Regions from separate parts of the Homo sapiens genome. Here all the other regions are linked to region 3. The links come from fine-mapping of genetic effects on gene expression. A gene starts in region 3. Each other region holds a variant in brackets. All regions are shown on one strand. Distances are from middle to middle. Region 1 has its middle 22 kb from the start of KIAA0930. Region 2 has its middle 6.5 kb from the start of UPK3A. Region 3 holds the start of KIAA0930. Region 4 holds the start of LOC105373064 (a long non-coding RNA gene). Region 5 overlaps KIAA0930.

The links.
Region 1: its variant is fine-mapped to the expression of KIAA0930 in whole blood (TOPMed, PIP 0.91).
Region 2: its variant is fine-mapped to the expression of KIAA0930 in whole blood (INTERVAL, PIP above 0.99).
Region 4: its variant is fine-mapped to the expression of KIAA0930 in monocytes (Fairfax 2014, PIP 0.95). The same link has a PIP of 0.9 or more in B cells.
Region 5: its variant is fine-mapped to the expression of KIAA0930 in whole blood (TOPMed, PIP above 0.99). The same link has a PIP of 0.9 or more in blood mononuclear cells.

What each region holds. Positions count from the first base shown.
Region 1 is chr22:45,259,949-45,265,049 of GRCh38, forward strand. No RefSeq gene overlaps it. Among named protein-coding and RNA genes, the nearest start is that of KIAA0930, 22 kb to the left of the region's middle. RefSeq lists enhancers at 3,402-3,451, 3,462-4,297, 3,722-3,911. The variant T/C (reference allele first, on the strand shown) is at 2,469.
Region 2 is chr22:45,275,860-45,280,960 of GRCh38, forward strand. It overlaps the pseudogene RPS10P31. Among named protein-coding and RNA genes, the nearest start is that of UPK3A, 6.5 kb to the right of the region's middle. The variant G/A (reference allele first, on the strand shown) is at 2,765.
Region 3 is chr22:45,238,493-45,243,593 of GRCh38, forward strand. It overlaps KIAA0930, which reads right to left and starts at 2,402. Exons shown (of 10, transcript NM_001009880.2): 1 at 2,148-2,402. The coding sequence starts at 2,211. RefSeq lists silencers at 1,976-2,065, 2,216-2,275, 2,436-2,495, 2,526-2,725.
Region 4 is chr22:45,189,890-45,194,974 of GRCh38, forward strand. KIAA0930 reads right to left here. Exons shown (of 10, transcript NM_001009880.2): 10 at 2,355-5,085. It overlaps LOC105373064 (a long non-coding RNA gene), which reads right to left and starts at 1,723. Exons shown (of 4, transcript NR_146602.1): 1 at 1,135-1,723; 2 at 613-656; 3 at 28-311. RefSeq lists an enhancer at 980-1,480. The variant A/G (reference allele first, on the strand shown) is at 2,478.
Region 5 is chr22:45,210,325-45,215,425 of GRCh38, forward strand. KIAA0930 reads right to left here. Exons shown (of 10, transcript NM_001009880.2): 2 at 1,632-1,783. Among named protein-coding and RNA genes, the nearest start is that of MIR1249, 12 kb to the left of the region's middle. RefSeq lists enhancers at 666-1,166, 1,298-1,847, 1,848-2,397. The variant C/T (reference allele first, on the strand shown) is at 3,129.

The sequences.
Region 1 (5,101 bases), 21 kb after region 3:
TGCTCCATGAACATATGCTGAGTTAGCAAATGCACGAGTGAGCCAGGATGAGGAGGAGAACTGTGTCACTGTACCACCGTCTGAGGGCTTTGCAAGTCGCTGCTGGCAAGAGGGAAGACAATGATAGAACAGCATGGCCCCCAGGGGGACAGGGCCAGCTGTGGGAGAACTGCTGCCCTGGTGGGCATCGGGGGGACAGTAACTATGGGGATCCCTGAGGTCACTGCCCAGAGTTCCCTCTAGGACACCTGGCTTTCCTGGCTGCTGTGGGCCATAGACAGAAAGGACAGGACAGGAGCGACAGAGAGCACTGTCTCTTTAAGAAGCAAGAATGTAGCCGAGCAAGGTGGCTTACGCCTATAATCCCAGCACTTTGGGAGGCCAAGGCAGGTGAATCACTTGAGCCCAGGAGTTCAAGACCAGCCTGGGCAACATGGAAAGACCCCCGTCTCCACAAAAAAAATACAAAAATTAGCCAGGCATGGTGGCACGTGCCTGTGGTTCCAGCTACTCGGGAAGCTGAGCTGGGAGGATTGCTCAAGCCTGGGAGGTTGAGGCTGCAGTGAGCCGTGATCACGCCATTGCACTCCAGCCTGGGCAACAGAGTGAGACCCTGTCTCAAAAAACAAAACAAAACAAAAAGAAGCAGCAAGAATGTGCTCGTTCTCCCTTATAGGTGCTGACTGAAGCTGCACGGGAACCACCAGGTCTAGGATAGAGGCAGGAAGGGCAAAGGTGGGGGGAACACCAGGGGAAGTGAGGGCTACAGGAAGAGGGGCCTTGGGGCTGGGTGCGGTGGCTCACGCCTGTAATTCCAGCACTTTGGGAGGCCGAAGTGGGCGGATCACCTGAGGTCAGGAGTTCAAGACCAGCCTGGCCAACATAGTGAAACCCTGTCTCTCCTAAAAATACAAAAGTTAGCCGGGTGTGGTGGCAGGCACCTGTAATCCCAGCACTTGGGAGGCTGAGGCAGGAGAATCGCTTGAACCCAGGAGGCAGAGGTTGCAGTGAGCCAAGATCGCGCCACGGCACTCCAGCCTGGGTGACAGAGTGAGACTTTGTCTCAAAAAAAAAAAAAAAAAAGAAAGGGGTTGGGGGAGGCTTCAGAACAAGGATGTGGGCTGCAGGCCCGACTTGTCTCCTGGCATGCTCAGCGATAGGCAGGTCCCCACATACCCTGGGCCTCAGTTTCCTCATCAGTAGGAGAAGGGGGCCCCTCATTCCTCCTGGATACTGAGAGCCACGAGGAAGTGGGGAGAGCCACACTCGGGGCTAGAATCCCAGCTCCACCAGCCCCTCGCTGGGTGAAGCGGCTCAGCCTCTGTGAGTCTCAGGTCCCTTCTCAGCAAAGTGGGGGTCATGGGGGCCGTGCTTCCCCATGGGGCTGTGCACACATTCCTTGCGGTCCTGCCTGGAAGCCTCTAGCACTTTCAATACAGGAATGGTTTTCATGGTCCGTTTTCCTTAAGACTCAGCACACAGAGACATCATTCATTCATTCTCCCCTCTTTCATCGTTGCCTGCCTCCTCAGGGTAGGCCCTTGATGGCTGGGTTCTGGGGACACCAAGTGCTCCCCACAGCCTGAGATATCAGTGGTTCATGGCTTGGCAGGCTGCCCTATGATTGAAGAAACAAGGAAGGGACAGGTGTGTGTACAGACGTCAGAGCAGCCAGGTGCAGAGGCAGGTGCGTGTACAGATGTAAGCGGGGTCAGGTGCCGATGTTATGGAATCTTTGGGGTGTCGCTTTTCTGGGCAGAAACCTCTGTGGCCAGTGGCATCTTTGTCTGAGTTTTGCTTGGGCCCACTGGGCTCATTCCGCCCACTTGTCCTGGCAGACTGCACTCGGCTCACACTATCGGCCTGGATCCCACGTCTACCAAGGGAGACTGCGTGGGGTGGTGACGGGTGTGTAAGCACGCGTGAGGTCCGGCCACTGCACAGTCAGACACGCCGGCTGCTGCAGTGGGGCAGGCAGCTCCGGGTGCCAGCATGGGCCCCAGCTCTCTGCGAGGCTACAGCTGGACCAGGCGCACTGCAAGCAGCTTCCACAGCTGGCACTGGGGAACACAGTGGCTCTCAGAAGCTTGGAGATGCCAGAAACCACAGGGACCCAAAGAGGGCATCACAGCCCTGGCTTGGGAGACTCCCCGGTCTGGGCTCCCCAAAGGGCTGCAGCTCTTCCTTCCTTCTCTTCCCCTGCAACGTGGCCAGCAAGGGGCATGTCTCAGCACTGTTTGTGTTATAGCTCTTTTAGCCTTATTCAGTGGGTCCCAAGTTCTTGTCCTCCACTCAGGAAGAATGAGGTACGGAAACAAGAGGGTGAGCAAGACGAAGAGGAGCTTTATTGAGTGACAATAGCTCAGAGGAGGCCCTGGAGAGGGCAGTTCCTCACTACAGCTGGTCATCCGACGTCTGCTCAGCTCTGGCTGAGCCTGGGGCTTCTGTCAGCCTCAGAGAGGGGGAAG[T/C]TCATGCTGACTGGTCCATGGGCGGCCATGGGCAGGCCCAGAAAAGGCAACACAAGTTCGCACTCCAGTCCACGGCACTGACAGCCTGGCCCCCAGCCTTCAGGGCCTCCCTGGCCTGAAGGTGGGCCTCACCAGGGACTCACCCCCTTCTGCCCAGAAACCTGTCTGCCTCCTGCTGCCATTCATGGCGCCCAGGCTATAGGTACCAAGGGGCGTCTGCAGGCCACTGCCAAGCTGCCCTCAGTTCCTCCTCAGCTTCATTCCTATGCTCATCAGTGCCCAAAATCTGGAGAGGGCTGAGACGGCAGGGGGCTGGCATGTCAGCACTGCCCTGAGTGTGTGCACACCTGGCTGGGCTGTGACAAAACCCAGGCTCGGCCCCAATTTTGCCCCAAGATCAGAGCAGGTGCCGACAGCAAGGAGAAGCCAGGCAGTGGGAGCAGGCATTTCCAAGCCTGTGAGGGCAGGGGGGCCTTCCAGGGCCCCCAAGAGTGCAGAGATGCCTGGGTCCGCAGTGGCAGTTAGGGCCGGTGCAGCTATGTGGGATGTGGGGCAGGACTCCAGCCTGCTCCGTGGAGCGGGAGGCCCCGGTCTGCAGCTGTGGTTTGGGCGGCTGCAGCTGCACCTGGGAGGGTGGGGTTCCCACCTGCTCCCAGGCTCCGAGAGCACAGGGATGCCTGGGTCCACAGCCGTGGCTTGGGCAGCTGCAGCGGCATGCAGGGAGCTGCCACCCCGACTCAGAATGGGAGAGGCTCCTGCCTGTCCCCAGCTCCTGCCAGTTCCATGGAACATGCAGCCCCAGCCGTGCCTCCCTGCTGCAGCTGGTGTGACAGCAGCAGCCGCTCCAGATGGCCTGCCACTGCCACCACTGAGACAGGTGTGTGTATAGAGGTCCATTTTATTCAGGCTGGCGAAGGAAGGCTTCTCAGGGGAGGTGGCCCTTGGGCTTCCTCCAGATGCTCTGGAGTCCTCAGTGTCTGACTCCGGCAAGTCTTTCTGAAGAACAAGCAAAGCTCTTTCTCTTGCCACCGCCAAAACATTTCCAAGGGACTCTTCAGAAGAGAGTCAGTCTGCACAGCTCCCCTGGGGCCTGGGCGGTGGGGGCAGAGATCTTATCCAACTTCTCAAATGAGATTCTGCAGGCTCCAGTGACTCGCTGGAGGTCACCCAGCTGGTAAGAAGAGGAACTGGAACTTAACCTCAGGGCTTCCACCCCGGCTCCTTCTTCTGCTCCACAAATGCAGCCCAAGCCTTGAGGGCAGTGAATAGGTCAAGGGCCAGGACAGTAGCCTGGAGCCACCCCACGAGGGTGTGGGAACCGAGGGCGGGGTGGCATGGTGAACATGGAGGAGGGAAGCCCCTATTTTTCCTGAATCCCATGCCCTGGGATCCCAGAGCAAGGCTGGCCAGGGCTGACCTTCCTTCTCATTGCAGCATCTGCTCTCAGGGCCAAGGATTGCTCTGATGACAGACTACAGGCAGAGCGAGTGGCCGGCAGGAGCCACGTGCTTCCGGAGCCTCCTGCGGCCACCCCTGCCTCCGCACTCCCCCTACAGTCCACCTCGACACAGCAGCCCAGGCCACGTTTCCAAAGCCAAAGTCAGATCATGCCATTCCTGTTCTCATCTCACACAGAATAAAACCTCAATTCTTGTCTCCGCCTGCAAGTCCCTGTACAATCCGGCGCCTGCTGATCTCATCAAGCTCTCCTGGAACCAAATCACCAGAGCAACACCATGGCAGGGGCCTCCCTCTCAGAGGAGGAGGCATTGACAGGAGATGATCTCAGGGCAGACAGTTCTAGACCAGGACAGAGCTGGAGCTGAGGCCTGAGGCAGCAGGTGCCTAGCCAGGGGCCAGCAAGGAGGTCTGAGTGCTGGAGGTCAATGTTAGAAAATAGTCGGGGCCCAGACCAGGCAGCCCATGAATGGGTTTTTCTTTGGTTCACACAGTATATTACAAAACGGACCCACACATATGTAGTTAACTGAATTTGTTTGTTTGTTTGTTTTTGAGAGAGTCTCTTGCTCTCTTGCCGAGGCTGGAGTCCAATGGTGCAATCTCGGCTCACTGCAACCTCTTGGGTTCAAGTGATTCCCCTGCCTCAGCCTCCCGAGTAGCTGGGACTACAGGCACACACCATACCTGGCTCATTTTTGTAATTTTAGTAGAGACAGGGTTTCACCATGTTGGCCAAGCTGGTCTTGAACTCCTGACCTCAAGTGATCCACCTGCCTTGGCCTCCCAAAGTGCTGGGATTACAGGCGTGAGCCACAGTGCCTGACCAAATTAACTGATTTTTGACCAAAGTGATGAAGCAACTCGGTGGGGAAAGGAAAGTGTTTCCACAAAAAGTGTTGGATCAACTGGACGTCCATATATATATAAAAAAATGAACTTCCACACTTACTTCATACTACATACTAAAATTAATTTGGGGCTGGGTGCAGTGGCTCACACCTGTAATCCCAACACTTTGGGAGGCTGAGGTGGGTGGATCACAAGGTCAGGAGTTTGAGACTAGCCTAACCAACATGGTGAAACCCCATCTCTACTAAACATACAAAAATTAGCCGGGTGTGGTGGCACTCACCTGTAATCCCAGCTACTCAGGAGGCTGAGGCAGGAGAATG
Region 2 (5,101 bases), 37 kb after region 3:
GAGACTGTGCCTGCCACCCCACACTGCAGCCCTCCAGAGACTGGCAGGCCTCGGCTAGGTCTGGAGGGCAGTCGACCTACAAGACTCACAAGAGGGGAAGCTGACAGAGACCAACAGATGGGGCACTGTGCCTCCTGGTGCAGACCAGAAAGCCGAGGCTGGGGCTGGGTCAGCAACCAAGTTTAGAGGCAGATTTGATCGTGGACATGGTCAGCCATGTCAGTAAAACTGGAGAGGATTATTTTGCATTGAATAAACTTATAGCCAGAAAAACTTTTTATTTTATTTATTTTTTATTTTTTTTATTGAGACAGAGTCTCACTCTGTTGCCCAGGCTGGAGGGCAGCAATGTGATCCCAGCTCACTGCAACCTCCCCACCTCCCGAGTTCAAGTGATTCTCCTGCCTCAGCCTCCCAAGTAGCTGGGATTACAGGCGCCTGCCACCATGCCCGTCTAATTTTTTTTGTATTTTTAGTAGAGATGGGGTTTCACCATGTTGGTCAAGCTGGTCTTGAAGTTCTGACCTCAGGTGATCCGCCCTTCTCGCCCTCTCAAAATGTTGGGATTACAGGCGTGAGTCACGGCGCCCGACCCAGAGAAACTTTTTTAAAAAAGAAATGTTACCCTGGCTTCTGGGTGGGGACGCATCAGAGGAGTGATGCATGAACAGGGAGACCCAGTAGGAGGCCAGTCTCCGTAGAAGACAGGGTGTGGACACCAGGGTCCCATGGCCTGGGTTTAAAACCCACCTCCCTACTCCCTGTGTCTTACCTGGAGGACGCTGGGTCTGTCTACCTGTCCATCTCGGCAGGGTCAGGCACTGTGCGGGTGCCGCGGTTAGAGCTCGCGTTTTAGCGGGCAGTTATTCAACTGCCTTGAGCCTCACTTCATCTGAAGGTAATGGAGGTAATAACAGTACCTGCCTGCCAGACCAGATGTGACAGATAAGTTGAAATGTGTAAAACCCCTAGCACAGTCCCTGACACGTGGGGTCAATTGTTATTATGTTATTAGTCCAGGCATGAAAGTGTGGAGGGGGCCAATTACATGTGTGAGGGCTCAACCACACCCCCCAGAACTCATCTGTCAAAGTCCTAAGCTTTAGTACCTCAGTAAGTGCCTGTATTTGGAGACAGGTCTTTAAAAGGGTAATTAAGCTAACATGAGGTCATTAGGGTGGGCCTAATCCAATATGACTGGTATTCTTATAACAAGAGGAGGTTAAGGCTGGGCGCGGTGGCTCACACCTGTAATCCCAGCAGTTTGAGAGGCTGAGGCGGGCGGATCACCTGAGGTCAGGAGTTTGAGACCAGCCTGGCCAACATGGAGAAACCCCGTCTCTACTAAAAATAAAAAAAAATTAGCCGGGCATGGTGGCACACACCTATAATCCCAGCTACTCAGGAGGCTGAGGCAGGATAATTACTTGAACCCAGGAGGCAGAGGTTTGGAGTAAGCCGAGATCGCACCATTGCACTCTAGCCTGGACGACTGAGCCAGACTCCATCTCAAACAAGCAAACAAAATAAATAAATAAATAAATAACAAGAGGAGGTTAGTGGGCTGGGCGTGGTAGCTCACACCTGTAATCCCAGCACTTTGGGAGGCTGAGGTGGGAGGATTGCTTGAGGTCAGAAGTTCAAGACCAGCCTGGGCAACAAAGTGAGCTCTTGTCTCTACAAAAATTTAAAAATAAGCCAGGTGGCGGCAGGCGCAGTGGCTCACACCTGTAATCACAGCACTTTGGGAGGTCAGGGCGGGTGGACCATGAGGTCAGGAGTTCAAGACCAGCCTGGCCAAGTGGTGAAACCCTGTCTCTACTAAAAAAAAAAAAAATACAAAAATTAGCTGGGCATGGTGGCAGGCACCTGTAATCCCAGGTACTCGGGAGGCTGAGGCAGAGAATTGCTTGAACCCGGGAGGCAGAGGTTTCAGTGCACTCCAGCCTGGTGACAGAGTGAGACTCTGTCTCAAAAATAAATTAAAAAAAAATAAGCCACGTGTGGTGGCACATGCCTGTGATCCAAGCTATCTGGGAGGCTGAGACAGGAGGATCGCTTGAGCCCAGGAGCGGGAGGCTGCAGTGAGCTATGATCGTGCCACTGGACTCCAGCCTGGGCAACAGAAAGAGACCTTGTCTCTTAAAAAAACAAATAAACAAACAAAAAACGGAGATTAGGACACACACACACAGAGGAAAGCCCATGTGAGGACACAGGGAGAAGACTGCCATCTGCAAGCCAGGAAGAGTGGGCTCAGGAAGAACCCTTGATCTTGATTAGCCAGCACCTTGATCTTGGACTTCCAGTCTCTGGAACTGTGAGAACGTGAATTTCTGTGTAAGCCACCCGGTCTGCCTTACTCATTATATCAACCCTGGAACACTAATGCACCGTGCCAGGCAGCGGTGGCAGCATCAGAATGGAAGAGGTGGGTTCCAGAGTCACTGGGAAGATCCGTGTGCCCAGCACGCAGTAGGCACTCAACAAACACCTGTTGAGTAAGTTTGGATTCTACGTGAGAGGGGCCTGAAAGGAAAGAGATGGCCCAGAGGAGACAGGACTAGTCCAACAGAGCCCAGGGCTGTGGTGACACCTGGGGAATGTGGGGGACCCTGCCACTGCCCACCACCGCAGTCACAGGGCACATTCACACCCACGACTGCACTTCATCCCACCCCTCTGCAAGAGGACCCCTTGAGCATCCCCATCTTCCTGAAAAAGAAACCAAGGGTAAGGACCACCACAATGAGAATCACAGCCA[G/A]GGCTGAACACGGCTCTTCAGAGAGTCCTGTCATGCGCGGCCCCTTGGAGTCACCAAGGAGGGCATGTTCTGCAGGACGGGCAGCTGGAAATGTGGGTCTGGAGCTTGGGAGACAGGTGGGGGCCCCTTAGAGCAAAGTGGGCGTCCTCATCACAGAGTGAGGATAGACGAGTGAGCACCAGGCAGGGACTTGGGTTTCTCCACTGGGGTTTTTGTTTCTCGTTTTAAAGTGACTGAATCTCTGGTCGGGCACAATGGCTCACACCTGTAATCCCAGCACTTTGGGAGGCTGAGGCAGGTGGATCACCTGAGGTCAGGAGTTCAAGACCAGTCTGGCCAACATGGTGAAACCCCATCTCTACTAAAAAAAATACAAAAATCAGCTGGGTGTGGTGGCACGCACCTGTAATCCCAGCTACATGGGGGGCTGAGGCAGAAGAATCGCTTGAACCCGAAAGACGGAGGTTGCAGTGAGTTGAGATTGCCCCACTGTACTTCAGCCTGGGCAACAGAGCAAGGCTCCATCTCTAAATAAATAAATAAAGTAGCTGAATCTGAAAGCACTGAAAAGCTTGACTTCCAGAGTCCTGGGACAGAGCCCCCACAATGAAAGCCAGCACTTGCTGTGGTGGGATTCCTGCAACTTCTCTGACTTCTGAAGAGAGGAGTCATGGAAACCGACTGGACCCGGGCTCTTCAGTGTTTGGAGAGACATTTCTGGGTCAAGAATTTCCAGCCCATAAATTCCCCATGCTTCAGATTCAAAGGAGGTCTGTGAAGGGCTGGGCTTTGCTTAACCTTTCACATCGCAAAACTTCCTGCCTCTCTGGCCTCAGACAAACACATCCTCCAGGCCAGGGTTCAGAAGGACGGTCTGATGGATCTAGATGTATAAATGACCTCAAGTCAGACTGAATCTGAGTGCTCTAGAAGTGGCCTGATCAAAAAGGAAACATTAAAAAAAATTTTTTTTTAACTTTGGGCTGGGCACAGTGGCTCATGCCTGTAATCCTAGCACTTTGGAGGCCGATGCAGGAGGATCAGTTGAGCCTGGGAGTTTTAGACTAGTCTGGGAAACATGGTGAAATCCCACCTCTATAAAAATACAAAAATTAGCTGGGTGTGGTCGCCCCTGCCTGTAATCCCAGCTACTAGAAAGGCTGGGGTGGGAGGATAGCTTGAGCTCAGCGAGGTCGAGGCTGCAGTGACCAGGGATCATGCCAGTGCACTCCAGCCTGGGTGACGCAGAGAGATCTTGTCTCAAAAAAAAAAAAAAAAGAAAAAAACAAATAAACTTAGGAAAGTGCACGTGGAGCAGCAAGGGACACTGGCAGGTGTCAGGCCCCCTTTTTCTCCTGTTTCCCCTCCACTGACACAAGCAATGGTCTCTCCCAAGTGAATTTCCCACCATGACTCATTTCTCCTGTACTTCCCCCTCTTCAGAATGAGCCAAACAAAAGTCAGCAATCTTTGAAGTGGACATTTGTTTATAAATCTAAGATTTTTTTCTTTCCAGAACATGTTTTGGGCCTTTGCAGATTATTGTTTTAACATTTTCCTTCAAATGTTCTCCCCATATTTGGGCAAGGCAAGAGACAAGAGGACTTTTTGGGGTTTTTGTTTTTTTTTTAAAGAAACTGCAGCGTTTTGGAGAAAACAATTTCCTGGGCCTACTTCCTCTCACAGGTGATTCTGAGCTGGGCCTTTAAGATCAACCCTGCTGAGGCCAGGCACGGTGGCTCACACCTGTAATCCTTGCACTTTGGGAGGCTGAGGCTGGTGGATCTTGAGGTTAGAAGTTCAAGACCAGCCTGGACAACATGGTGAAACCCTGTCTCTACTAAAAATACAAAAATTAGCCAGATGTGGTGGTGCACACCTATAGTCCCAGCTACTTGGGAGGCTGAGGCAGGAGAATGGCTTGAACCTGGGAGGCGAAGCGTGCAGTGAGCCGAGATCGCCCCACTGGACTCCAGCCTGGGTGAGAGAGCAAGACTCCATCTCAAAAAAAAGAAAATCAACCCTGCTGGCCTCTGATAAACTGCAGGTTCACAACCAGGTTCACAAACAATTGTTGAACAAGAAATGTCAGTCTATAAAAATTCTTGGAAGAAAACCGCAGCCCTGTTCAAGAGTTCCTTACCTCTGGGACATTTTCTGTGTGCTGAAGATAAGGATCTGATCATCCGCTCTCTGCATGTCAGGGCTGAGAGGTGACCAAACTCCCTCCCCACTTTCTAGAAGGTAAACCGACACCCAAAGAGGGGAACAGTGCATTTCTGTGGCAGAGAACAGACTCTGTCCCCCAACATTTTCACTTTGAAAAATGTCAAACCT
Region 3 (5,101 bases):
AGAACACAGGCAGAACAGGACTGTGTGCCTGGGAGCTGGAAAGAGTTCCCGGAGAGGCAACACTGGAGCTGAGACTTAAAGGAAAACTTAGAGATGCTTGTGGGGCACATGAGTAGGGGCGGCTTTCCGGGCAGAGAAAACAGCAGGTTTTCTCTGCTTCAGAGCCCTGCAGGGACTGAGTTCAGCAGCAGGGGAAGAGGGGAGACCTGGCACGTGCGGGAGGCCTGGAGAAGAGACAAGGAAACAGCGTGAGTATCGTAGGCACATAAAGACCTGGCTGGGGATATTCAGGGAGTGGAGGGCAGGCTCTGAGGTCAGGCTGGCAGAGGGTCAGTCCCGGCTATGCTGCTATGCTGCTTCCTCATTGGTTGTCCCTGGGCAGGCTCTCTCTCTCTCTCTCTCTCTCTCTCACCCTCAGGCTCTTCATCGCTGATATGGAGATAATACTGCTCCCTGGCAAAGTCAGCATTGTGTCAGGATTAAATTTGCAGCATGAGTAAAGCACCCGGCACATAGTAAGTGCTCAGTAAATGCTAGGTGCCATTTTCACTGTTCACTGTTCTTCTGGGAATGGCCCTGCAGCCTCCTTGCGGGAGGGGCTGCCTAGAAGAGGAGAGAAGGTGCTCACAGGTAAAGGTGGTCAGAGGACAATAGGTGTGTGTGGACAGGGGAGTGGGGAGGGACTGCTTGAAGCTGCTGAGCAAACAGGGCCAAGTGACCTGCAGCAGATGGTCCTTCAGATGCATCCCAGCTCAGATATTCGGTGCCAGCTGACAGGTGGGCCTGCCACGGTGGCACACAGTAGGTGCTCAATGAATGTTTGCAGAATGAATGAATAAGCACGCTCCAACTTCTGCTCAAAAGTAAATCTTGACACCTTTTCAGAAAGAAACCATTGAAACCTTGTCAACCATTGAAGTTCTTGTCCATTTCACTTCATAAGCACCCCCCACCCCACCCCTGCATGAGGAAAGGCTCGCCTGGGCAGGCTAGGCTGGGGCCTGCTCACTGGGAAGCCTCCCATGCTAAGCCTGCCTCCTACAAAAGGGATTCAAATTTACTTCCTCTCTCCACTCCAGCCTCCAGGGTGTGGCCTGCTGAGGGGCCCTGAATGCCTGGGACTGCCATGTCCCTGCAGCTGTGTGACCTTAGGGGGATGCACTTGTTCTCTGGGACTCAGTTTCCCCAACGGTGAATGAAGGGGTGAATCTGGAAGGCTGACATTCCGTACTCAGCAATGCTGTCACCCCCTCAGAAATCCCCAGCCTAGCCTGGGGGTGGGGTGGGGGGTGGCTGACAATGTGGTATGAAGTCATTCCCTGCACGGAGGAGGGAGGGGTCTTTTCCATGGAGAAAATGACGAACCTGAGACGACAAAAGAGGGGGCTTCTCCTGGGCTTCAGTCTGGGCATGATCCATCAGTAATGGATTACCTCACTGGCTGGGAGACCCCACCCACACCTGCAGTCCCAGGCCCTTCCAAACAATACGAGGCACCCCCATCCCACGCCCCCCAGCAGATCCATGACTTAAAGCCCAGAATCACACCGAGAGGCAGCAGGCCCTGCCCCTCAGCCAAGCGGGCGGGTTCGGGGGGCCATTGCCCAACAGGTCCCTGGATACAGCTAAGGGATGAGAGGGGCCGGTGGGTGCGGAAAGACAAAGGCTTCGGGTAGCAGGAGACAGTGGCCAGGGCACGCTCGCAGCGAGGTCCACCCAGAGCCCAACGAGGGCCCGACCCTGCCGCGCTGGGCTAAGGGTGTACCCAGATCCCACGCCCACACTCCCTACCGCGGTGCTGAGGGCCCGGGGCGGGCTTCCTGGAGAAGGAAGAAGACCCGCAGAGACACGAAGAAGAAGGAGGAAGATGAGACAGACACCCGGACGGACTGACAGGGGGAGACGCCGAATGAGACCCGGGCACAGGGGTGCGGGGCGCTCGTCGGACGGAAAGCAGAGACAGACCCAGATGCAGGGACGGTGGGGGGGGGGCCATGGAGGAAGACAGGGTACCCAGGCAGACCCAGAGACCACGACACCCGCGCAGAGACAGAGATGCGCGGGGCGCACAGAAACACGGACGCGCAGAGGCGGCCCCGGAGACGCTCACCTCTCCCGGCCCGGCCTCGCCCCCGGGTCCCACTCACCGAGGCCGCAGACCTCGCGGCGCAGGCTAAGACGGCCGCGCTCCTCCGCTATGGCACGCAGCATGTGCTGCAGCGAGCGCTCCTCGGCCTCGGCGCCGCCCGCAGGCTCGGGGGCGGCGGCGGCGGGGAGGGCGGGCGGCCCGGCCCGCAGCCCGCCGCGAGCACCAAGGAAGCCACAGTCCGCCTCTGTGCGCGTCGCCGTCGCCGCCGCCGCCGCCACCACCCGCCAAACACAGCACCGGCGAGCGCACCTCCGCGCCGCCGCCGCCCGCGCGCCCCCGGCTCCGCTCGCCCCGCCCCGGCCCGGCCCGGCCCCGGTCCGGCCCCGCCCCTTCCCCGCCCCGGCCCCGCCCCTGTCCCCTCCCGCCCCGCCTCTGAACGGCCCGGACCCACCCCGGCTCCCTGGCCCCGCCCCCTGACCTCCCTTGCCCCGCCCACTTCCAAACGGCCAGTCTCCGCCAATCTTCGGATGCCCAGGACAGCCTCCCTCAAACCGCTCGCGGGGTCCCGCCTCCACCCAAGGTCCTAAACGCCCCACCAACGGGATCACGCCTCTGAGCCCCTCCCGCCGCCCCTTCAGGGCACCTCTCCCCTCCCCCGCTGCTACCCCACGGGATGTGTACTTTGTCACCCGCCCTGTGCGTTGCCACCTCCACCAAGTCCCCTCGGCTGACTTCTGGGAACTTCCTCCGCAGAACCCCTCAAGAGGTCACCTGCTCCCAGAAGGTGGTCTCCTGGGGGACACCGTGGCAAAGCCCTTCCGGCCCCCCTCCTCTGCACCTGGCACAGTGCAGAGTGTTGCGCCTCCATTTCCTCAGCTGCACCATGGGGGACCTTTCCCTGCCTTGCCTCCCCAACATGGGGGAGTGTTGATGAAGGGGGAGGTATGAGGTTAGCTGGGCGTGTCATCCTGATGAAGCCAGGTCTGGCCAGCATCCCTCCGTGTGCTAGTTGTGGCTGATACAGGAAGACACCGGAGAAGCAGCCAGTGGCCTCCCCAAACCTCACGCCTGGTGGTCCATTTCCAAGAACAGGGGGAGATGGAGAGACCAGCATTGATTTCCAGGTCTCTCCAAAGCTAAATCTACATCACTCCCTGCATTCACAGCCTGTGTGTGGACCCCAGACCCATCAAGGTCCCCCTTTCCCCTGTCTGGAGTCCTCTTCTCCCCATTCCTGTGTAACTTGCTTCCTTTGTGTCCCGAGTGTCACATCCTCAAAGAAACTCCCCTGACCGCCTTCCCTCCCTCTCTCTTCCCTTAGTCTGTTTCTCCTTCACAGGGTGACACTTACCTCCTCCCGACACATTGGATACCTATGGGTTCACTTGTTCTCTTCTCTACCGAGGGAGGGGCCTGTCTACTACACAGCTGTTGTCTCAGTACCCAGAACATTGCCTGGCACACATTAGATGCCCAATAAATAGATATGGGCTGCAGGCTGGGCACAGTGGCTCATGCCTGTAATCCCAACACTTTGGGAGGCCGAGGTAGGTGGATTGCCTGAGGTTAGGAGTTCCAGAACAGCCTGGCTAAAATGGTGAAACCCCATCTCTACTAAAAATACAAAAATTAGCCGGGCATGGTAGCACACATTTGTAATCCCAGCTACTCTGGAGGCTGAGGCAGGAGAATTGCTTGAACCTGGGAGGCGGAGGCTGCAGTGAGCCGAGATCCCGCCACTGCACTCCAAGCTGGGAGACAGAGCAAGACCCTGTCCCCCCCCAAAAAAAAAGAAAAGAAAAGAAAAAAAAATGTAGGCTGCATAAACGAAGAATGATGGAGAGGTCTGATGGGGACGCAGGGGTCTTCCTGGGAGGCACAGCAGGAAGGAGCCGTGGGGTTGGGCAGAGCCCCAGAAGGGAGATGGGATCTGGATCCTGCTTCAGGCCTCTGCCCCAGTTTTGTGCCACTGGCCCCTGAACTCTTCAGAGCAGAGCCACATCTGACCCCTCTGTGTCCCCAGTGCCAGGCCCAGGAGGGCTCTGTAGAAAGGTGAGCAGTGAGGGAATGAAGGAAGTGCGCGACCAGCCTCACGTGTATTTCTCTTCTCCAGTGGGCCTGCATCCCTGTCTGTAAAGTGAGGACACTGGCATGAGGGCTGAGGCCTCTGGTTCTGCGTCTGGAGAGCTGGGGTTTGGGCTGGTGGACGTGAGAACTGGGGATGGTGGATCAGACAGCATGAGCGAGTGCTCCAAGGCTGTCAAGTCCAATAGTCACATCCCTCTTTGCCTCCCCAAACCCCACAGCACCCCCTGCCTGTTCCCACTGCCATGCGTTTGCCCACAGTGTTCCCTTGGCCTGAAATCCTTTCTGCTCCGCAACTGTAGTTGCCTTTGGGACCCACATTGCCTGGTTACGCTTGGCCAATGCATTGTGTTCTTATTTGCTTCACAAACCCCCTTTCCCCACCCCACCCTCCTGCACACAGTTGCCTCCGTGTATTCTGTGTCATATGACCAGCATTGAACCAATTCATCCCACTTCCCGTGGCACCCAGCCCAGGACTGGTGCCAGAAAAATATCTGTTGAATGAATGAGTAAACAAACATCGCTTGGGCTCTCTCCTTTGTATTTCAATAATACTCCAGGTATTACCTATACACAGAATTTTCTTTCTTTCTTTTTTTTTTTTTTTTTTTTTGAGGCGGAGTTTTGCTCTTGTTGCCCAGGCTGGAGTACAATGTCGCGATCTCGCCTCACCGCAACCTCCACCTCCCAGGTTCAAGCAATTCTCTTGCCTCAGCCTCCCAAGTAGCTGGGATTACAGGCATGTGCCACCACGCCCGGCTAATTTCATGGAGATGGGGTTTCTCCATGTTGGTCAGGCTGGTCTCGAACTCCTGACCTCACATATACACAGAATTTTCTAATGTCAACAAATGCTAAATCACACTGTGCATGGGAAGAGGGCAGGAGCAGGACTTCTGGGGCTACAGAGCATGTTCTGTTTCT
Region 4 (5,085 bases), 49 kb before region 3:
TGATTCAGTGGCTTTTAGTATACTCACAGTGGTGCAGCCGTCATCACTGATCCAAAGTATTTTCCTCACCGGTCTTCTGGGTTTGAACGTTGGGTTAGAGCGTGCATTAGGTGATCCTGAGGCATGCTCACATTTGGGAACCGCTGGCACATGCACTCCCGATGACTCCAAAGATGGCCCGTGAAATACCCCTTGCACACGCCGGGAAGAAATGGCAGTAGTGATCAGCGTTGCCAGCAACTATGCCAGCCTTTGGACGTAACCTTGTCTCACTTCAACATCGTCGCGTCCCAGGAAGGAAAGTGGTGATTCTACTTGAGAAAACCCAGGCCCAGGGTTAAGTGTGTCTGAGGTGGTGCAGCTTGAGGTCCCAGCCCCACACACCTCTCCCCAGCGTGCCACGTTAAGTGAGATATACGTGCCCACTAAATTACTCAACTGCACTGGCTTCTGGAAGTGGCTAAAATCTTTTAAGCAAAATTGTTTATTCAGAGTAGCATAAAATTTGGCTAAAAGCCATGGTTATTTCAAAATGAGCAACCTAATTGTTTCATTAAAATCAGATTCCAAGAGGAAAGACCCCAGTCCACACAGAGGAAAGAACTCTCTAACCTGTTGGCTGATGGAGAGGCTAAGTCAGGGGCAATTCAGTGACACTGTAAGGAAAGAAAAGACAACATGATCCTTTCTTTATCCCCAGAAACAAGTATTTTCTCTTCCTCATGTAAATTTTCCAGCTGTTCTTAGCATTTTAACAATCAGGCACAAAGTACAGCATGTTACCACAGTCAACATGTCTATTTACAATGAACTGTGTTATTATATGGATTGAGTTACATTCCCCTCTCCTCCCAGTGTAAGATTCCCAAAGGTTTTCCTTTCCAGTTACCTTTTTTCCTTCTAAGCTAGGGCATGACAGTACTTCCTAAAAGCTCATCTAAGGCTAAAGGAACCGAAATAGCAGATTAGCCTTCCAAGAGGAGGCAATGAATAGGAATGAGGTTCCCGCAGGCAGCTTCCAAGATAGAGACTCTCCCCAAATTTCTATTAAACATTTTTCAGGTGACTGCTTTAAAAGGACTTCCCACTGTTCAACAAGAAGGGGGTTGACCTGGATGGCAAGGAAGTCTTCACCTGCTAGACCGCCTCCTTCCTAACCTCCATCTTCATGGGCTGCCTTTGGGGTTGTGGTCAGAAAATTCTCTTGGTCTGGTGTTTCTAAGGCAGTGGCTGTTCCCAAGAAGTGTCATTGATGGGATGTCCCTTACTGTATTCCGGAATGCTTGCGTTCCTCTCAGACCCTCTTTTCTCTGCCCCTCATTTTCCACTCTGTAACTTTCTGCGGTGTCTTAGGTCTTAACATCCATCGCTGGTAACTCACTAAGTCCATCTGACCGTGGAAAGGAAAAGCTCACAGTGTGAAAGGCGACGATGAGGCTGCTCCCACCTACGAGGGCCCTGCAGTAGCAGACTCGGAAGGATCAGCCGGAAAATGCGAGAGCCTGCTCGAGGTCCCCTCACCTGCTGAGCTGCAAGACAGACGCCTGCTGCAAACACCTCATCTTCCGTTAGATCAGCCAGCTTACCTGGAGCCTGCAAAACCTGAACTTGGGGCTCCTGGCCTCTATTCCATTTTTTCCATTTCTGTGAGGGTTAAGAGGTTCTCTGAAAAAGCCTGGGAAATTTTATAGTACAACTGAAAGGGTGTGCACTACTTTGTGGAGGCTAAAAGCTTAACTTGAAATGCATTTTTTTTTTTTTTTTTTTTTTTTTTTGAGATGGAGTCTCTGTCACCCAGGCTGGAGCGCAGTAGTATGAGCTTGGCTCACTGCAACCTCTGCCTCCTGGGTTGAAGCGATTCTCCTGCCTCAGCCTCCCAAGTAGCTGAGACTACAGGTGCACATCACCACGCCCGGTTAATTTTTGTATTTTTAGTAGAGATGGGGGTTTCACCATATGTTGGCCAGGCTGGTCTCGAACTCCTGACCTCAAGTGATCTGCCCGCCTCGGCCTCCCAAAGCACTGGGATTACAGGCGTGAGCCGTGCCAGGCCTTGAAATGCATCTTGAAATGATTTAATACTGCAAATATGGCATCTCTGGCCAAACCCATCACTGACCTGCCCACCTCTTCTCGGACTCCTCACTGGCTCACGGCAGGCAAAGCCAGCACACAGGGTGATTTTTCTCTGCCTCCAACACACTCTAGTTCAAAAAAGTAGTTTGTGTGAAAGCTCCAAAAAAAGTTTCAGGAATCACTGGGGGCAAATTAAGTTTCAATCATTAAATTATTGCTTTGCTATAATATCTGTATTTACCCTGAAATTCCCATTACAGAAAAAGATTAGAGGAAGACACAGAAAAAAAAAATTTAATATTCAACATGCAAAACAACCTTTAAAAGAAACATGAAATCATAAAGCAAAGCTAACAGCCAACCAACAAATACCGCCTAGCAATGATTTCCACTGGATGTGG[A/G]AGAGGGTTAATAAAGACGCTGTTGGTAACGCGTACAGAACTATCACTGGCAATCAGCATACTGAGCTATCCAGTGGAGGCCAGCATCGTGTTTTTGCTAAAATACATGTTGTAGAAGTCATAATTCATAGTGAAGAATCTCAACAGGTTTTCTTACAGATTTAATTACTCTCACACAAATAATTCATTTGGAAACCATAAAAGATACCTATTTACACCTAAACTGCCTGGCCTTCCAGAGCGGGGACTAAAGGGGCAGGGCGGGGAAGAAAGCGAGCGTGTCGCGGGCTCTGTGGGGTTGCAGGGTCACTGTTATTTTGATCTGCTGAGCTCAAGGACTGGAAACGGAATAAAAACGCCTACTCGCCTTAGGCAGGATAAGAAGTTGTAAACTCACCCATCAGCAGCTGCCTCCACTTCTGAGGCTCCCCCTGCGGGAGGAGCTCTGAACCCAGCCCTGAGGCCACTCGGTGTCCCGAGGAGTGCTCCAGGGCTCGGAGAAGGGGCTCAGGGGTCCTTTTGCCACTGAGGATCAAGCCAGCCAGTGAAAAAGAAAAAACAAAAGCCCCAGCAGGTGCCCATCACCCGGCTCCCAGGGGTCATCTGCAGAGTCACGTGGCACTCTGGCCACTGCTGAAGAGCTGCTCTCCCTCGAAGGGCAGTGGCTGCCCCCTCCAGAGGCTGCTTCCATTCAAGCTCAAGGGCACGTGCCTTTCCTTATCTCGTGGAGTGTCCGTCCTATCAGGTGGTTGTTTGTAAAACAAAAGTACAGTCATTCTGCTTTCTGATACAGACTAGAGCAAGAGGACAGGAAGAACCAGTGGGCTGTCAAGAGACACTTGGTTTTTGAAACAGGACATGAAAGCAAATCCCACCTAAATTCAAAAATTGAGGAAAACGTCAGTGAAACCTGTTAAGTTCGCTAAAAAGTTGGCAGATGTTTCGTATGTCTTTAAAGGATTTTGGCCAACAACTTAAAACCACCATATTAGGACATGGTCCAGGCAGTCATTAGAATATACTGGCTGCACAGGGCCTTTCCTCTGGGACATCTTTTAATGAAAAAAAAAAGTTTTACTTTGTTCTTCAAAAGTCTTCTACTAACTAGTCTATTTATGATTAAAACAGCAAAAACAGATCCTGGTTTGAGTGCAGGTACATTCTTTGGGGGAGGGCACCTCAGGAACATGCATTTATACCCTTCCTGTGACTCCGTGTAGAGGGAAGACTAACTCACAGTCCATAAGAATCCAAAAGTGAGCGGCGACTTCACTCAGCAACCCATCCTGCCTCCAAGCTGACTTGGCTATAGAGTATCTTGCGTCCTTTTGTTCTCTTCTGACTACCTGTCACTCATGTTTTAAATAATCTTCTTTTGAAATAATAAGCCTTAGCTGGCTTTGCAGGCAACTAGGCACTTCCAGCAGGACATGAGAATGTAAGATGGCCACTACCGGAACTTACAGGTGCCAAAAGAAGAAAGGGTATAAACGGAGACCACCTATCACTCATCAGAACCTAGGATCATCACATTCCTTTAAATGGAAAAGCCCACCCTACAACTTTCTTTTTAATGTTCTAAAAAGTGACACCTAGGTTTCCTCAACAGAAAGCTGTGCTTCAATCCCAAATCCCCTTGAGACCAACATGCCTTAAAGGGGGTTTGGGTTTAAAGACCAATGTATCTTTTTTTTTTTTTTTTTTTTTTTTTTTTTTTTTTTTTTTGAGACAGAGTTTCGCTCTCGTTGCCCAGGCTAGAATGCAATGGCGTGATCTCGGCTCACTGCAACCTCTGCCTACTAGGTTCAAGTGATTCTCCTTCCTCAGCCTTCCGAGTAGCTGGGATTACAGGTGCCTGCCACCATGTCCAGCTAATTTTTCTATCTTTAGTAGACATGGGGTTTCAGCATGTTAGTCAGGCTGGTCTTGAACTCCTGATCTCAGGTGATCCACCCATCTCAGCCTCCCAAAGTGCTGGGATTACAGGCGTGAGCCACTGCGCCCAGCCCCAATATGTCTTAAAGGGGGTTTGGGATTAAAGTACAGTTTTCCGCTGAGGAAACCTAAGGTCTTAAAGGGGTTTTGGGATCAAGTGTCCTGTTGAGGAAAACTAGGTGTCACCATGCATTAGTCTTCCCCGCATTACACAAAAGGCAGGTGTGTTCCCAGAAAAATTAAAGATGGTCTTACAAGAAGTACAAATGTGCCAACACCAGGACTTTGGGGACCCTGGTTCTGGCCCTGCCACTTGTTACTCTATTACTTTATTCCACATGTCATCTGTTACTTTGGAAAAACAAACCTGGGAGTAACACCTTACTGTCTGGTTCTCAAGTGGCTAAGTGGCTCTGAGCAAGTTTTAAATCCGGCATCGCAAGTACCCTTTGGAGAGGGATTTAGGGCCTGAGAAAGGCAGACTCCACCGAGTGTCTGTCCATCTGTCCGGACAGCACCATGTGGCTCAGCATGCAGGCCAGGCCGCGTGCCTGGGTTTGACTCCCATCGCCGGCCCCTGCTGTTAGTTCCGGACAGTTCCTTGGTGCCTGTGTGCTGGTTTTCTCGTCTGTAAGATGGGGTCGGACAGGCAGCTGCACATGGTAGGCGCTGT
Region 5 (5,101 bases), 28 kb before region 3:
CGGTTCCCATGGGTGAGAGGAGTCCCTCCCCCAGAACTGTGCAGAGGTGAGAGGAGCCTGTGCCCGCCATGAGGGTCACGGGCAGTGAGGATCCTGAGGCACCATCCACCCCCCTGCCAAGGGCACTCATATGGTCACACTAACCCCAAACATCCCAGCCTCCCAGGTGTCCAGAATGGGAGGGCCCTCACCTTTCGGGGCACCTGCCCTGATCCCCTTTTACCCCAGAGAGGAGATGACCTGGCAGTGTCATATGGTAAACCAGGGAAAAACAAGACTGGCCTTGAAAGCTGGTCTCTCGATTGTACACCCAGACAGGGCGGGCGTGGCAGCAGGTTCTGAGGAGCCCTGAGCCAGCTCCAGAAGGTTCTTACTCGGGGATCCCATCACCAGTCAGGCCTCCTCTTCATCCCTCCCAGAAAGCATTCCCTGCCTGCCCGAGTGTGGCTCTAGTCCCTGCACACCCTGCCTGCCCGAGTGTGGCTCTAGTCCCTGCACACCCGCCACTGAAACTGCTGCGCCAAGGCCGCCACCCCTCCCTGGTACCGAATCCAATGGGCCCTTCAGACACTGCACCCCACTGGCTGCACCCACGTCTCCAGACCTCCCCTCTTGGGGTGCCCTCCCCTCTCCTGGCTCTTCCCCCACCTCTCTGGCCAGTTGTTCATGGTCTCCTGCTGGTCCCTCCAAAGTGGGGCTAGCTCAGGGCTCGGGGCCAGCATGCAGGCACCCAGGCCCTTCCACTTGCAGAAAATCCATCCCGCGTGTGTTCAGGCTCAGAAAATGGGCCCAAGGCAAGACCAGGCTCCAAGTAATCCCTGCATGAGCCTCTGCCAGCAAACCATGGCCCCGGAGTTACAGAGCCAGGCAGGCTGCAAGTTCCAGACCTAGCTACACGGCCCTCTCATTTCTTGTTTTTGAAGGAAAACAAAAGCGTTTCCATGTCTGGCATATGGAGTTGATTAAACATTTTACGAACAGCAAAAGCTTGTGAAAAACAGAGAAGGAAGCATGCAAAATGTATTTTATTAGCTCCTCCCACACTGCGATTTAGTGGATGAAATACGTTAGGCGAATCACTTCATCTCCGAGCCCTCCGTTTCCTCATCTGTAAAAGGGGTAAGAACACCCACCCTGTCGAGTTGTTGGGACTTCACAAGGAGGCTAAGAAGAAGAGAGCTCAGCACTGTGTCTAGATGATGGCGAGGGCTCAGTAAGTGGAAGGCACCGTCATCATCACCACCACTGAGTCAGGTCACCCTGCCATGGCCAAGGGAGGGCCCTGGGCTCTGGAGTCCGACCTTTGCTCTACCATCTACTGACTAATTATAAGAGGCCAGCCGAGTTAGCTGTCTCTGATCTGTTTCCTCAAAGCTACGACGGTGACGGCAATCACTGCCCTTCAGGGTCACAGTGAAGATGAATGACAATGTGTACAGACACCCAGCACATCCAGATTTGCACATGAGACTGTCTACACAGTTCCTGGAATACAGTAGGTGCTCAATAAATATCACTCACCCTCTTTGATATGCATGAGCACTGTAGGAAAGCCCACATGTACACCGAGAGCAGACACCACAGGGATGCTTGGGGCACAGACGCAGGGGCAGGGGCCGGGGGTCACTCACCTTCCTCCCGTCTGCACCGCTTTCGCTGCCGGAGTACGCCAGCTTCCGGCGCACATAGAAAAGCATGTCGTCCTGCCGGGGAGCCCATTTCTCCATGAAGTAGGTGGAGAACATCCAAGTCCAGAAGACGATGCGGTCATCCTTGAAGCACCCTGCAGAGGGAGGCCAGACAGGAGTGAGGAAGGACGGCCACCCTGGCCCTTGCAGCATGGCCTTGGCCAAGCTGCGCCCATACCCCCACATTTCTGGCCAGAAATTTGCGAGGGCTCTGAGATGCGCCACCCTTCCCTCACCACTCCCGACCCCCACCCATGGAGCATCCAGAGAGGCTGGAGGACACCTCCCAGGAGGCCCAGTTCCTCCACTCAGCAGCAGCCTGAGAGCCCATGCTCCCAGCCCCACAGCTGAGCCTGACTCCAGCCTGGGGATGAATCAGCAGCTTCGGAGGAAAAGGAAAATCCCGAGGAGCCAGGAACGCCACTGGCTGGCTGGTGTCTGGGCTGGAAGCCGGGAAGGCTTGGCTGGGGGGGAGCCTTTGGAGAGGCAGGGCTCTCACCAACATCTCTCACCCCCACCCACTCCCCCTGGCTGCGGCAGTCCCAGCGGGAACCCGACTTAAAGGGACAGCCGCCCTCCAGCCAGCCAAGGCTGCAAGCGGGAACCGCAGGGAGACAGCACCCGCCCCACCCCTGCCCCACGTCTGCGCAGCTTCGTGCTCATCTGATCCTCACAGGGACTTCTCCTTCTATTACAAATGGTATTTCTTTATGATAAATATTTGTAATATTTTCCTGCAAAAGAGAAAAAGCCCACAGGCTTTGGTAGGGAAGATCTGGGTTTCCATTCCAGCGCTGCCGCTGGTGATGGGACAATGGGCGGGGGCTCTGAGCCACAGGTTCCTCGGGGCACATGCAGACAAACCGAGACCACGGGCACACAGCAGGATCAACATAGGTGGGTCTGTCCCCTCTCTAGACAGATTCAACACTTCAAAATATGCAGCCAAGCTCTCTCTTATCAACTCAGTAGATTAAACCGGGTCTGCTTTTGTTTTCTGTCTTCCTCACTGACCAGTGCAATCTAGTGCTGGTACTCGGGCTGGAAGGCACTAATCCCGACACTTAGAGATGGGGAACGTGAGGGCCAGTGGTGCCAGAACCCTCTCTCGCGCTCACAGGCAGGCCAGTGGGCTGACCAGGACTCGGCCACTAGCTGAGTCAAATGCAGAACACCCCAGCCTTGGTTGACGTCAGCCACAACACTAACCAAAGAACCAGGACTCACAGCCAGCCCCAGCCCTCGGCCCTCAGCCCTCAGCCCTCTGCCCTCTGCCCTCAGCCCTCTGCCCAACAGTGTGTTGCTCACCCACTCCCATGCCCTGCCTGGCTCCTGGGCTCTAGGGCAGTGAGAGGGAGGAAAAGAGAAGGAGGCTTCATCGGTGAGGGTCTGGGTCAGCGAGCCTTGTCAGCCTCCAGGGGTGAGGGCCAGGAGAGCCCA[C/T]GGGACTGGCAAGACCTCCCAGGCTCACAGGACCCGGGGGAACGAAACACGCGTGCTGTCTGCAGAGTCGCTTTGAAATTCCTGCCGCGTTTTTGCAACAGGCAAAGCCCAAGTCACGCTACTACAGACCCTTGCAAAATTAAGCAAAGCGCTGTGATTATTCCTGGATAAACTTCAATTCTTTTTTACTTCCTCTTTACATTGCTTCACTTTTGGTTCCCTCTTAGAGCCCAACGGAATAACAGAATAAATTTGGTCTTTAAAAACCAGCCCTTGGCTGGGTGTGGTGGCTCATGCCTGTCATCCCAGTACTTTGGGAGGCTGGGGTGGGTGGATCACCTGAGGTCAGGAGTTCAAGACCAGCCTGGCCAATATGGTGAAACCCTGTATCTAGTAAAAACACAAAAATTAGCCAGGCATGGTGGCGGGTGCCTGTAATCCCAGCTACTCGAGAGGCTGAGGTGGGAAGATCACTTGAACCTGGGAGGCAAGAGGTTGCAGTGAGCCGAGATCGCACCATTGCACTCCAGCCTGGGTGACAGAGCAAGACTCCATCTCGGAAATAAATAAATAAATAAGCCAGGCATGGTGGCAGGCGCCTGTAGTCCCAGCTACTCTAGAGGCTAAGGCAGGAGAATCACTTGAGCCCGGGAGGCAGAGGTTGCAGTGAACCAAGATCGTGCCACTGCACTCCAGCCTGGGCAACAGAACGAGACTCTGTCTCAACAAACAAACAAACAAACAAAACAGCCCTTAAGAAAACTGCCAGATTCTCACAGAGTTATACATATACTTACAAAACCAGCCACTAGCCACTCCTAGGTACCTGCCCAAGAGAAATGAAGCACATGTCCACAGAGACTGGTACACAAATGTTCACAGCATCTTTATTCGTAACGGCCACAAACTGGAAACCAGGAGAATGCACACATGTCACAATAAAAACAAACTAGTGATCCACACTACACTGTGGATAAACCTCAAACTTGTCCTGCAGAGCAAAAGAAGTCAGGCGCAAAAAGCTATTTACTGTATGATCACATTCACACGATGTTTCGGAAAAGGCGGAATCGTAGTGACTTAAAGCAGGAGGGTGGTTGCCCTGAAAGGTTCTAGATCTTGATTGTGACGCTGGTTTCACAGGTGCGTATAACCATCAAAACTCATCAAACTTAGCCGGGTGAGGTAGCTCATACCTGTAATCCCAGCACTTTGGGAGGCCAAGGCGGAAAGACTGCTTTAGGCCAGGAGTTCAAGGTCAGCCTGGGCAACACAGTGAGACCTGGTCTCTAAAAAAAAAATAAAAATTAGCTGGGCATGATGGCATGTGGCTATGGTCCCAGCTACCAGGGAGGCTGAGGTGGGAGGATCACTTGAGCCCAGGAGTTCGAGGCTGCAGTCAGCTATGATCGAACCACTGCACTCCTGCCTGGGGGACAAAGTGAGACCCTGTCTCTAAAAGGGTATTAAAAAATAAAATTTAGGCCAGGTGCAGTGGCTCACACCTGTAATTCCAGCACTTTAGGAGGCTGTGGCCGGCAGATCACTGGAGGTCAGGAGTTCAAGACCAGCCTGAGCAACATGGTGAAACCCCATGTCTATTAAAAATACAAAACTTAGGTGGGTGTGGTGGTGCTCACCTGTAGTCCCAGCTACTCGGGAGGCTGAGGCACTAGAATCACTTGAACCCGGGAGGCAGAGGCTGCAGTGAGTCGAGATTGTGCCACTGCACTCCGGCCTGGGAGACAGAGCGAGACCCTGTCTCAAAAAATTAATTAATTTAAAAAACATAAAAACTTATCAAACTGTTTAGTCTACATATATGCAGTTTATTTTACATAAACCATATGCCAATAAAATTGTTAAGTTGTAGCTAATGCTGGCAAGGGTGCATTGAACTGGAACTCTCCGATATGCTAGAGAACAAAACATGTGAGAAGCTAAAGAGCATTTTCTCACTCCTATGCATCTAC